Linked DNA regions of Homo sapiens. The protein of the gene in region 2 interacts with the protein of the main gene of each other region in a biochemical or structural test. Each region holds a gene or a part of one and is shown on either strand. Other genes may lie near its edges.

What was found. The genes of interacting proteins can lie anywhere in the genome.
Region 1: the proteins of NHERF1 (region 2) and PTEN form a complex in vitro, tested with the Homo sapiens proteins (3 studies listed by BioGRID and IntAct).

Annotation. Positions count from the first base shown.
Region 1 is NC_000010.11:87,866,625-87,874,592, reverse strand, and holds part of PTEN (phosphatidylinositol 3,4,5-trisphosphate 3-phosphatase and dual-specificity protein phosphatase PTEN), read right to left. Parts: intron 1-7,968. UniProt on the Homo sapiens protein: Dual-specificity protein phosphatase, dephosphorylating tyrosine-, serine- and threonine-phosphorylated proteins.
Region 2 is NC_000017.11:74,763,691-74,769,853, reverse strand, and holds the end of NHERF1 (Na(+)/H(+) exchange regulatory cofactor NHE-RF1), read right to left. Parts: intron 2,919-6,163; coding exon 2,878-2,918; intron 1,708-2,877; coding exon 1,618-1,707; intron 1,387-1,617; coding exon 1,198-1,386; 3' UTR 501-1,197; downstream 1-500. UniProt on the Homo sapiens protein: Scaffold protein that connects plasma membrane proteins with members of the ezrin/moesin/radixin family and thereby helps to link them to the actin cytoskeleton and to regulate their surface expression. Necessary for recycling of internalized ADRB2.

The DNA of each region.
Region 1 (7,968 bases), on a different chromosome or scaffold from region 2:
TAAGGCCTTGACATTTTATTCTGCATTCAAAAGTGAGAGGCAAAGCAAACTGTAAAATCATGCAAACAGAAAAAAAATCACAGCAATCTATTCCTAGAACCCTTTTGTAATTACATTTGCCTGCCCTAAAAACAAAACAAAACCAAAAAATTCAGAATCCACTAAAGCTACCTTCTTGGCATCTTCCCATCTCTGGGCTAACCTAAAACTCCATTCCGATTTTGTTTCTTTTTTTCTAAAACTTCACTTTAATACAAGTTTCTAATTTAGATAAATAAAGCACTTTAATTCAACAGGCTGGCATAGCAAATTTAGGGCCTAGAAAAGAATGCAACACATGGATCAAAGAACCTTAGAGTCAGCCCTATTTTCTTTACTTAGAAATATTTAAGTTTGTATAGCTCGTTGGAAATTTGCAATTTTACATTGTACATTTAACTTCATCATATCTGACTATAATAAAAGCAGCTTTAGAATAAAAAAGCATAAGGTCAAAGAATACATTAAATAACAAAATAGTAAGAGAAAAGTAACTCCCAACAGTTCAACAACTACATAATTAAAGGAAAAAGGATTACTTTAAAAACTACTAGCAAAATTAAAAAAAAAATTAAACATCCTTCTGAATACTACGTACAGTATTAAAAACACTTACGGAAAACATCTTCAACCTTTTCTAACAGAAGTTCAAAGCAACACTTTCACAATCAGCCAAAGAACACATGAGTCCTCTTCAAATAAACCTTTTTTGTTATTAGGGATATCTTCTGTGGACAAAGTTCTTATTATCATATAAAGAATACTGGCCTAGCAGCAGTCAGAACACCCAGATGTTAGGACTAACTCCATCACTGATTTAGTAAGTTGACCTTCTTAAATATCACACCTGGGGGCAAAGGTACTGATTTTCATCAAATATTATACTTATTATATACCAGACATTTTACACAGCATTTTGGGCTAGATAATTCTTTGTTGATGGGGAGGGGTCTTGTGCCATATAGGATGTTAAGCAGCATCACTGGCTTCAAGCCCCTAGCCAATAGCACACTCTACCACCCCAGCTGTGACCACCAAAATGTCTCCAGAAAATGCTAAAAGTCCTAGAGGAGGTGAAAGGGGATCACTCTCAGATGGCAACCAATACTCTGAAAAAAACCTCACCTGTACTTTTAACAAAACTAAAAAACCACTGTACAAGTTTAGGATTTTTACTCCCATTTTGGAGTTGTCGAAACAGGGTTCACTAAGGTTAGGCAGTGTATCTACGTAACTGATAAGTGGCTGAGCGGGGATGTATTTATTTATTTATTTTTGAGAGAGGGTCTCACTCTGTCACCCAGGCAGGAGTACAGTGTCCCAATCACAGCTCAATGCAGCCTCAAAGTCCCAGTCTCAGGTGATCCCACCTCAGCCTCCTCAGTAGCTGGGACTACCAATGCGCACTATAACACCCGACTAATTTTTGTATTTTTTTTTGTAGAGACAGGGTCTGCCTATGTTGCCCAGACTGGTCTCGAACTTCCAGACTCAAGCAATCTGCCAACGCTGGCCTCCCAAAGCACTGGGATTACAGGCATGAGCCACCACGCCCAGCCTTGAGCAGAGATTTAATCTGGACTTTAGGTCTAGCCAACTCCAAATCTATGCTCCATTCCACCATACTGCCTTTCTAAACTCACTATCTCGTCTATAAAATCAGGATAACATTTTCCATGCAAAGTTACTTAGAGTTTACAGGTCAAATGAAATAATGCATGTATAAATTCTAATAACCTAAAGGAGTATAACATGTTAAGGGTTTGCTTGGTGGGAGATAATGTTCATTGGTGGTCCTCAAAGTGTGATCCCCAGAGCACCAGCATCAGCATCACTTGAAAACTTCTAAGAAATAAAAATTCTCAGGTCCCAATCCAGACCTACTGAATCAGAAACTCTGAGGGTGGAGTAAGCAATCCATAGCTTAATAAGCCCTTCAGGTTGTTCTAACACACTGAAGTTTAAGAACCACTCATGTAACATAATGGGAAAAATACTGCACCAAGTGCCAAAAAAGTCCTGCATCCTTCTTCAGACTCAGTCTTTCACTAGCCATTAACAAGATACTGATTCCACTGGAGCTACAATTCCTAAGCTGCAAAAAATAAATAAATAAATAAATAAATAAAATAAAAAAGAAAGAAAAATAAAAGTAATGCCTGTTCTGTCTGCCTCTTAGGTTACCTGTTCTTCTTTGCAAAATCAAATGAGCTAATGATTTAAAAAGTGTATTGTTAATCAAAAACTACATAAGACAGAGTATATATTAGCTAATTCAGTATCTTTCATAAATGATTCTTTCAAGGTATACAATAAATTTTACAACATGGTCAAATTAAGCCTAGCAAAACACTGTTTTTACCTTATAAAAATGAATAAAATAAATTTTAAAAAATCCCAGGCATTCCATTTTATCGCTGACAATCAGTGTAAAATAATTTATAATACACACTAAAAAAAAAACCTAAAAAATCAAGCTTAATGACATCCCCAAAATTTCATTTTAAAAGTACAGTTTTCAATTCTATCTAATTTCATCTCCAATCAGTTTAGAGTAACCAGAATACTCAAAAAGAAGTCTCACAAAGAGAGGGAATTTTAAATGGAAAAGAATCCTGCATTTTGAAATAAGCAAAAAGTTTGTAACTTTAAACATGTATACGATATTTATGAATCACTCTAAAAATACATCTATTCATGCCAGCAATGGTGGGTTAAATTTTTAAACGCATCTAATTAAAAGAGTATCTGAGGCCGGGCGCAGTGGCTCATGCCTGTAATCTCAGCACTTTAGCAGGCTGAGACAGGCAGATTACCTGAGGTCAAGAGTTCGAGGCCAGCCTGACCAACATGGAGAAACCCCCCATCTCTACTGAAAAAAAAAATATAAAATTAGCCGGGCGTGGTGGCGCATGCCTGTAATTCCAGCTACTTGGGAGGCTGCGGCAAGAGAATTGCTTGAACCCAGGAGGCGGAGGCTGTGGTGAGCCGAGATCACACCATTGCACTCCAGCCTGGGCAACAACAGCAAAACTCCATCTCCAAAGAGTATCTAATTCAAATCACAATGCATTTCATAATACCTTAAATAATTACATCCTCTTCAAAAGATCAAAAGTATTAAACAAATAAAATTCACAGAATACAATCTTTGCAATTACTAGTAAAGAACAGAGAACCTTATTGTACTTCAGCCTGAAAATCTACAAAAATCAAAGGAAATAAAAGTCAAAGCTATGCTTAAGTGCTCTAATATTAAATCAACAGTAAGTCTTAGGTAGTGATCTAAAGCAAAAACTAGGTGCAAGGAGAGAGATTGATTTAGAAAACTCAGCTGTGCTCAGATGCCAAAATGCACAATTCAATTCTACAACCTAGACATGGACCAAAAATACAGCTAGTTTACAAAACACATAAAATGCATAAAAATCACATAATCAGAAAGTCACATAGTATCAGACAGAGTGTATTCACTCTGCAATATAAAACACACACACAAAAAATCCACTCACTAGAAGTCAAGTGCTTCACTACTAAGAGTGCTGTGGTACATCTGGGAAATCAGTACAGCCCAAGGGGGGGAAAAATAATAATCCCTATGTACACATAATGGCCTTTACTGGACAGATAAGCTTATTCCATCTTTCCCCATATTCAATTAAAAAAATGAAGAAAAAAATCCTTTAGTTCTTTACTTCTTTCTTCCCACGTCTTGGGCCTAAATCATATTGAGAATCCTGGCCAAATGTGGAAATAGGACTCAATAATACAGAGACTGAATACTTTAAAAGTTCCCATATTATGTTAATGCATTACAGATTATATTAAGTGTCCATTTTATTGTAATAAATGTAACTTGACATTCAGTTGCAAGACTCCCTCAAAAGGCTGAAATTTTCAAAAGGAAATGCTAAAAAATATACCTCTATTGACCAAAGTTTACATAACTCATATTAAGTTTATTACATTTGAGGCAGAGTTTACTTTATGTGAATAAAAATGTATGATAGTTAAGTTGACCTATCTTCAACACTAAAGAAAATTTAAGATTATAACAAAGTTTAAAAATTCTACTTCATTATGCTAATAGGAAGTTTTTGCCTTTTATATTTTAAAGCAAATAGTTTTTGATTGGCATAATTAATTTTACTTTGGTCAACAGTTTGAGTTAGCAGAGATTTATTTCCCATTTGTGATGAACCAGCAAAATCACAGACATGTCATACCCAGACTTCCTAAAGGAATACCCTTATTTTTAAAAACACTTATAACTTGAAACAAAATCCTAACATGGCCCAAACTGAGGAAATTCAGTTACAATCATACACCATAAATGAAAATACAAATAATTTCCCTACATACATAACCTGAAATTACAGTTTTTCAGAGCAGTAGCTACCATTTAAGTATTTACAATGTGGCAGGTACTATGCTAAATGAAATTACTTATTATTATCTCACTTACTATTCAAGATAAACGTATGCGGTAGGTTCCATTATCATCCCCATTTTACAGATAAAATAGATTGAGAAAATCTAAATAACCTACTCAAAGTCATCCAGCTACTAAATGGAAGATCCAGGATTACAAAACAAGCAGTCTGGCTCCAGAGCCCACACTGCCTCCCTAAAATCTAAAATGAAACAATGTATATATGCTTAAAAGTATAGATAAACGTAATACTCAAAATTTTAACATAATTTAAAATAGATCTGACCATATTTAAAAACTATAGAACAATATTCTCTAAGGTAGTCTTTTCTTTAAAGAAACAAAAATTCGTTTTTTAATAAATATTAAGATAAAAGGTTTGCTAACTTTGTATACACATACACACACAGAGAAATCAAACACTGGTTAGATTCACTGTTCATATTTGAAGTGGTGAGTACTGATAATAATTATGTGTATAATTACTTAAAATATAATGTGTAAACAGTCTTCTTTTTCACACTATGTGGAGGTCAAGAAAATTCTTTTGATGGCAGGTACAGCTACAATATCCATCTCTCAATATTCTCAACACTGGCCAGGCGCAGTGGCTCACGCCTGTAATCCCAGCATTTTGGGAGGCCGAGGCAGGCGGATCACTTGAGGTCTGGAGTTTGAGACCAGCCTGGCCAAGGTGGTAAAACCCCATCTCTACTAAAAGTACAAAAACTATCTGGGCGTGGTGGCATGCACCTATAATCCCAGCTGCTTGGGAGGTTCAGGCAGGAGAATCGCCTGAACCTGGGAGGCAGAGGTTCCAGTGAGCCGAGATCCTGCCACTGCACCCCAGACTGGGCGATAGAGCGAGATTCCATCTCAAAAAAAAAAAAAAAAAAAAAAAAATTCTCAACACTGCCAAAAAGTAATGCCTTGAAGATGTCCTAATACCTTGAAGATGTTCACACATGTCCCAATGTCAACTGTTGCAAATGAAGAATCTGCCTTAACTATACAGAACTAAAACTTCCCAAATAAAATTAATTCACCCTTAAATTATGTTACTCTTCTTATATTTGCCGATACTTATTTATTCCAGTGCAAATTATTTTAAAAGAATTAAATTGCTAATACTTCCTCTGCAACCAATGAAAAAAATTCAAAAAACTAAGGGAAAGGTGAATAGTCAAGTACAATATACTAATTTCACCTTTCTTGGCAAATTATTTTACATTAGTGAATGCATATACTCAATATGTACAAAGAGAATCACCAAACACAGACCAATATACTTTTAACCACCTATGGAAGAACGTATATGTGGCAGTAATGCACCCTATAAAAGACTTACAGTTATCAGTTTGCTCAGCAAAGCCTTACCAATTTAAGGTTAGTCTAACCTCAACATTATTCTCTCTGATAAGCAACTAAATTAATTTCAAAGCTACCAAATAGAAAGCAATTGTAAAACAGAACTGACTGACCCCAGTCTCACAAATTTCCTAAGTCACTATCTTCAGAACAAATCCTAACATCTTTTCTTAATGAATTCAGGCCACAAGATGAATTCTTCAATGCTGACTGTGAAAATCAAGTTTAACAGAAAAAATGAAGAAAAAGGTAACAAGATTAAGAACTAATGGGTTCCATGTAATAAAACTTCTGAACTGTTTGTTTAACCCAACGGTTTCTACAGAAAAAAAAAAATACATTTCTTAAGCTATGTTAATATTACATTTTCTGGAAGCTAAATCCTTGTAGTATGGCAGAGGCCTCACATTTCAATTAAGCAGAAAATTGTCATATGCATGCAACACTTCTACAATTCTCTTTACAAACTCTGAAGTCACACACAATATCAATAATAAAAGTGATTTCCTAAGCTTTCGTCTTACTTAAAAGATTGAGATGAAAATTTAAAAATAGCACGTTTACTTCAAGTGAATTAATGTTAAAACTTTGTGAAGTGAATTTCCCATAACAAATACTCCTCCATTAAAAGTCACTGAAGTGATTACTTCAGAAGCGGCTTAAAATATTTTTTTAAGTGTTGCGCTATCACCAAATGAACAAACAGCAAATGGAGGCAAATTTCAAAATAACATTAGAAAATAAGAATTGAAGACTTCTTCACTTCCAAAAAGTAAGCCATTTCATAACACTAAGAAGTTTATGTATTTTATGTGGCTATGAGAAAGCAGATGCACTGTTCCATACAAAAATTAAAATATCACCAGTTGCCTTTCCCATGTTATTAAAAATAAAATTCTAAAAAGGTAATAAAGGAATCTTTCTTTACTATCTTCTAAAACTAAGTTTAAAATGAAGGTGGTTATACCTCACCATATTTTATTATCTTTAATCATTTAGTATTTACTTAGTATATTATAAGCAATGTAAATCTGCATTGATGACTATACTGCTGTGCAAACTTTTACACTGGCAGCAATAAAATTCCTTTTTCCTCATATAAACTGTACATTACTCCTTTCAGTTGTGCTTTACACTTGAATAAGCACTATGAAAAATGAAGTTTGTAAGTTATCATACAGCAATTAGGTGGTCCAGTCATGTTTTTCAGGAAATATAACTTAGCAGATACAAAACAATGTAAAATAAATGTTGTGAATAGAATACTTTTTAAAACCCTCATGATTAATTTCAGTAATCACTTACCTTGAGGTAATTTAGGTAACTTCAATAGTCACTGTACTCTCTACAAGTTAAAAGTATTCCCTGTGAACATTTATTTGAAAAGAGGCAAATCTACCAAACAATAAAAATACAACAGAAGCCTAACGTTTCCACATACCCTAAATACACTTAATTTTTCTATAGTCTCAAATTCAGCACTATATTTCAGACTAATATTAAGCATATAACCCTACTAACAAATTTTTAGAATAATTTAATTTTGCGATAATATTTTAAAACTGAATTATTGTCCTCAATTTTCCTCGGAGAAATGGCTTCATTATTAATCTTTCTTTATCAGATAAAAATACTCCAATCACTACTTTCATAAAGGAATTTAACTTTTCACAGGTTAGTTACTGAAATAAATACTACAACATGTCAAAGACAAAGTCTTCAATGACAATTTTAATGCCTTCCCACTCCAATAAACAGAAAACATTAACGTGAAAACAAGCAAACCAAGTACGTTGGAATATCAAAATTATTGGGAGTGCAATTATCAAAAAAGCAAGCACTTCACTGACTTTCCTTACTGACTTTTTTTCATATCAACTTTTGGCTCAATAAAACCACAACTCTAGAAATTAAGTGTTATTAGTCATTTGACGCAATATTTGATACTGCTTTCTATGCATATCATAACTAAAAGTACAGTTTTAGAGAAAGTTTTAAGTCACACAAATTTCATGTGTAGAGACCAACATACGCTGAAATCAAAGAAAATGCCAGTCATGTCACAGCTCACATGTAAAAACCTGGTAAAATAATTTTAAGGTCTTAATAACCCTGATAATTTAAAATCA
Region 2 (6,163 bases):
GGATCTGGCACCAGCCCAGCCTGCCCCTGGGAATTCTGCACCCCACTGGCTATAGGCAGAAAGAGTAAAGCCAAGTCCTCACATTCCAAACCCAGCTCCATCCTGGGACACACTTTCCACGCTTCTGGAATTAAAGGAACCTCCCAGAGTCCTCTGAGAACGTTGGTCTGAGCTCCCACTTCCCCTTGTAAATATCCCCGTTAGACAAGGGGTCCCCAGCCCACAATCGGTGCTTGCAGCCCAGCACACAGGCACACTGACCACACCAAGCTGAATACCCGGCTGGGTGCATGCATCTTCCTTCCTACAGGACTGCAGCTAGGCCCTCTAGCTAAAGCTACCCAGGCTTGGGGTCACAGGGAGCCCTTGATGGCCCTCCCTCCAGTGTACCCCACCCTCCCAGCCAAAGACCACCTTGGCTTACCATTTCTCAATTTCTACCTATAAGGGGTCCAAGGCCAGAGGACAAAACTTCCAAGGAACACACGGAGGCTGAAGGGTTTGGAGGAACCAGCTGAATTTCTGAAAGTGTTTCCTTACAATGGTGGTACCTGGCTCAGGGATGGGCAGGGGTAGCCAAACCCTCCCCGTGCTGCCCAGTTCGCTGAGGGTGGGAGTAGGAACAAAAGTTTAAGGCTGAGGCCACTGCCATGCCCTGGATGTAACAACCAGGAAAATCATGTTAATCAAGGAAACAAAAATTCCTCTAGACTCTGCAATACTGCACTCTTAACAAAAATCAAATGAAAACAAGACGTGTCTGCCACAGGTCTCAGGGTAACAGATGCCCTGTCCACTGAGAGCGGCAGTTCTGCAGTCAGAGTTCTTTGATCAGCCCTGGACCCATTTATCACATGGGGGAGGAAGGGAGGGTGCCCTCTCGCCTGGTCCCATGATCCTGGCATGGTGCAGGTTCCAGCGATGTCCCAGGCAGGGTGGCAAAGGGACACCCGGTAGGATGAGGCACTCAGTGAGGAGGAGGGAGGCAGAGTCTCCTTTCTGACTGCGGGAGGACGGGAACACATTCACCTTCCCTAAAGTCAGGGAAGAACATAGTTCTCTAGAAAAATCATTTGTCAAGAAAGGGGATGTGGGTGCTGATTTGTACATTGATTCAGGGGAGTAATTGGGGAGAAGGAAAAAGGTGGGGTGGAATGCTGGCTCGGCCCTGCCAGTCACTGGGTGGCAGCAGGGCGCTCAGAGGTTGCTGAAGAGTTCGTTTTTCTTGCTCCAGTCCATCTGCGGGGCCCGTTTGCTGCTGCGTTTCTGGTGGGCCCTCTCTTTGGCCATGGCCAGGGAGATGTTGAAGTCTAGGATGGGGTCGGAGGAGGAGGTAGACGAGGGCGCTGTGGAGTCCTGTTTTGGGGGGCTGTCTTGGGAATTCAGCTGTAAAGAGAAGTGGGGGCAGGAAGTTGGGAGTCAGTCCCTCATTAGGCTCCCTGGTCCTCAGCCTTGGTGAGGTGGCTCCGTTGGGGCCGTGCCCAGGGAAGCCAGGTCACAAGAACAGAATGCGGCTCAGCATGTGACCTCAAAGGCAGGCTGGTGTGCCAGGAACAAGTGGGGCCTGGGAATCGGCTTCCTGTAACCCAGTTGCCACCCCCCGCATGGCTGGCCTACCTCCTCGCTGGTGTCACTGGAGGCGGATCTCACCAGGGCTGGCCTGGGGCTCTCCAAGGCTGCCTCTGCCAGGGCTTCACGACTGTTCTCCTGGCAGAGAGGAGAGGGTTGTGGGTTGTCAGAGGATGGGGTGAGGGGGTCCTGAGGAGGGAGGGAGCTCCTGGGGAAGTAGGGGCCTCAGACTGAGAAGAGGTAGCACTGATGCCCTGGCCACCCACCCCTGGTTCCCACCTCCTGAGCCTGCTGGGGCTCCTTTTTACATTCCTTTGGGGATCAGAGGGCAGGCTGGTTCTACTGCTCAGGCTGGAGGGATGGGATGGGAACAGACCATCATGGGATTAGCTGAACCGCTCCCTCTCCCTGGGCCACTCCAATGTGGCTTTTAGGTACTGGCTTGCCTTTTGGGCCAGTGACCAGGGAGGGGCTTCTTGGAATGTGGGGACACATGGGGGCATGGGGAGCCCATGTGGTGCTCCCTGAATCTCATGTGGTCCACCTGACTGTTTGCCAGGATTTGACCCCAGGAATCCTGAAACCCTAACCCTGAAGCAGCAAAGGAGGGCCTTGAAAGAAGAAGGTGGATGGAAAGTTCTAGATCCAAAGATGAGGTGAAAGAAGGTTGAGGGCTGGGTCCAAGGGCCCTCCCCCTTGCCAAGTACCCTGGCAGGAGCTCCTAGGGAAGGGGAACCTTTAAGCAGACCCTGCAGAGTTCCTGCTCTGTGGCCTGACTGAGTCGGCCTGTCCCAGAGCGAAGGCTTTGGCTGGGGCGTCAGCTTGGCACCCAGCCCCTTCCTGGGTTCCTCCATGGCTTCAGCTGGCGCCCAGCCCCACCATCTCTTCCCCGGGCCTCACCCCCTTTCCCTTCTGCCCAGGGAAGGGGGGAGGAGGGGCTTTGTTCTTCCAACCCAGACTAGAAGTAGCAGGGGCCCGGCTGCCCGTGGCCAGACACTGAAGCTCTGTTCTTGGGGGGAAGAATGGCCCCTTCTGTATGGTGGGGAGTTGGAGGCGGGGGCTTGTCACCCAGGATGGCGGGCTGCAGAGGGGCCCAGCCAGCCCGCTCCCTCCTGACAGCTTTGGCCCCAGGCAGAGGCCAAGAGGGTTCTGGCAGTTCTATAGCTTGGAGCTGAAGAAGGAGCTGGAACTGGGGACCCTGGGGTTTTGGCCTTAGTCAGATGGCTATCCTACCAACCACAGCACCTTCTGATCTGTCTCATGCACCCCAAGGATTGAAATCCAAAGAGACAGGGGACCCGCCCTTACCTTCTGTATCTCCCCATTGGTGAAGGGCACAGGCAGGGGACCTAGGCAAAGGACAGAGCAGAGGTGAGTCCAGAACGGGGATGGAATAGAGCGTGGAGAGGAGGTAGGAGTTGGGTTTGGGCAGATTATTAGATCTTGTTCCCTGGGTCAACATCTCAAACTTTTTTGACTACCACCCACCATGAATACATTTGCCTTATTTATTTAAAAAAAATTTTTTTTTTATAGAGATGGGGCCTTGCCATGTCATGCAGGATGGTCTCAAACTCCTAGCCCCAAGCAATCCTTCCACCTTGGCCTCCCAAAGTGTTGGGATTACAGGTGTGAGCAAATGTCTGGCCTACGTTTGCCATTTTGATGACTCAGCACACACAAAGATTTTGTGTGATAAAAGTTTCACAAAGCAACACCCTTACTACAGTGTTCTTTGATATTTTTAATTTCATTTCATTAAAAAAAACAAAAAAATGTCTGGGCCAGGCATAGTGGCTCACACCAGTAATCCCAGCACTTTGGGAGGCCGAGGCACCTGGATCACTTGAGGTTAGGAGTTTGAGACCAGCCTGGCCAACATGGTGAAACCCCGTCTCTACTAAAAAAGACAAAAAGAAAATTAGCTGGGCATGGTGGCACACGCCTGTAATCCTAGCTACTTGGGAGGCTGAGGTGGGAAAATTGTTTGAACCCAGAAGGTGGAGGTTGCAGTGAGCCGAGATCACGCCACTACACTCCAGCCTGGGCAACACAGCAAGACTCTGGCAAAACAAAACAAAACAAAACAAAACAAAAAAAACAAACCAAAAAACCTGCTGGTCTCTATCTACTAAATTGATCTTATGAGGCACTGATGGGTCACAAGGTGTTTAAAAAATGTATTGTCTCAGATGGGGATGAAATTCGAGGATGGCTGCCTAATTCCTACCTGGGAATTCCTACCTGGGAACTCCTACGTGGGAAGCTTGTTAAAGTACAGATTCCTGGACCTTGGCAGCACAGATTCTGGTTTAGTGGGCAGGCCTAAGAATCAACATTTTCCAAACGCTTCCCAGGTGATGATGATGACACCAAAATTGGAACCACACCCCAGACTATAGTTAGTACCTGCCTCAACTGAAAGAGAAAATAGTCTGGGCTCGGTGGCTCATGACTGGGACCCCAGCACTTTGGGAGACTGTGGCAGGCGGATCACCTGAGGTCAGGAGTTCAAGACCAGCCTGGCCAACATGGCGAAACCCTATCCCTACTAAAAATACAAAAATTAGCCGGGCATGGTGGCAGGCGCCTGTAATCCCAGCTACTCAGGAGGCTGAGGCAGGAGAATTGCTTGAACCCAGGAGGTGGAGGTTGCAGTGAGCCAAGATTGTGCCATTGCACTCTAGCCTGGGTGACAGAGACTGTGTCCGGAAAAAAAAAAAAAAAGGCCAGGCGCGGTGGCTCACACTTGTAATCGCAGTACTTTGGGAGGCCGAGGTGGGCGGATCACAAGGTCAAGAGATCGAGACCATCCTGGCCAACATAGTGAAACCCCATCTCTACTAAAAATATAAAAATTTGCTGGGCGTGGTGGCGCATGGCTGTAGTCCCGGCTACTCAGGAGACTGAGGCAGAAGAATCACTTGAATCTAGGGGCAGATGTTGCTGTGAGCCGAGATCGCACCACTGCACTCCAGCCTGGGTGACAGAGCAGGACTCCATCTCAAAAAAAAGAAAAAGAAAAAGAAAAAAAGAGAAAATAATCCCAACTCCTATTTGCCAATCAGGAAATGAGGGGGGACGAGAAGGCTCAAGGGGTGTGTCCTGGGTATCCCCTCCCCCAGCCAGTGGGAAACCTGGAGGGGTCAGAGGGAGAGAAGACAGGTCTGGGGTCACCTTCACTGGGCTCACTCAGGGTAGGGGTCCCACATGGCTTCAGGGGTGGCTGTTCCATCTCCAGGGACTGGTCAGTGTAGGGCTTCTTCTGAACTCTTAGCTTAAAATTCCTGGTTATCTTTTCCCTGTCCCCAGTCCAGGACACAGCCAGAGATACCTGACTCTCATCTTCTCCTCCCTTTTGACACCCACAGCCTTCCCCGGGCAAGGACAGGCTGCTGGGACACAGGGTCACTCACTGTCCCCTCCCCATCAGCTCACAGTGGTCAGGGTGAAACCCTGGCAGCCGGAGAGGGGGGCATTCCTCCCTATGGAAAGGGTGAGGATGCCATCCTGGAGGGACTGCGGGGAGGGGACTGTCCCCAGGCCTCTCCCTCTTCAGGTCCTTTGGCCAGAGGCTGCAGCCCCTCTAGCCCGAGAGACAGGCAGAAGAGGGAGGAATGTCTGAGGGGGCCAATTACCTGCAGGGTGAAGGGGTGGGGGAAGCAGGGGACAGTATCCCAGGAGCTGAGTGGAATCCAGATTCCAGCTGTGTCTTCCTCGTATCAGATCCCTAGGAGGAAGGCTGGGGCTTCTCTGGGCCTTAGTCTCCCCCTCAGTGGAGAAGGGGATTATCTGAGTTACCTGGTTTCCATGAACTTGGGAGATAAGGGTAAGGCGGTACCCCACCTCCCATGCCCAGAGCCAGCTAGGGACTTCCAGGGGCCATCCCCTCTTCTAGGAGCCTCAGGCCTTGGATTGCGCCAGAAGGGGACAGGGCCTCCCCAGTGGGCCCTTGCAGCTGGCGATGGGAGTCGCAGGACCTTTGTGTGAATCTCCTTTTACACATACAACCTTGAGTCTCCAGGAGGCCCCACCCACTGCAAAGTCCCAAGAGGTTCCACCCTCAGTATGGCCCAGTGAGCACCCCTGCCCGCTCCAGGGAGCCATCTTCCCAGGGAGAAAGTCCAGACCAAGGAGCAGAGCATGCTTAACCCCTCCCTGCCCCGGTGCAGCAGCCCTGCCCTGTTTGGCTCGGGCCTGGGCAGGGGGAGGCGCCAGGCTTGGCAGGGTGATGGTGGGGGATGGGGAGGGCAGGGGCCCAGGGATTGAAGGGGGACCCACTACTCTCTAGAGCCAGCAAGGCTGAGTTTCCAAGACAACCTGAGAGGAGGGAGGGGGAGGCACCGGCCCCCGTCACTGGACTCTGATCTGACCAAGCAAAGGCTGGAGGCCTCCCCGGAGTTAACCCTTTCCTCACATTGACACTGCCCTGAAAGTCTGCTGGTGGGGACAGGACTGGGGGCTTGGGCCTCCTTTGGGGCTGCAGCTTTGGCCGGGAATAAGAAGATCTGTCCATCTCTCTCACCGACCTCATGCCAGCTGACCCCATCACAAGCCGTCCTCAGAAACCCACTGCCACTCCCTACACTAGGCC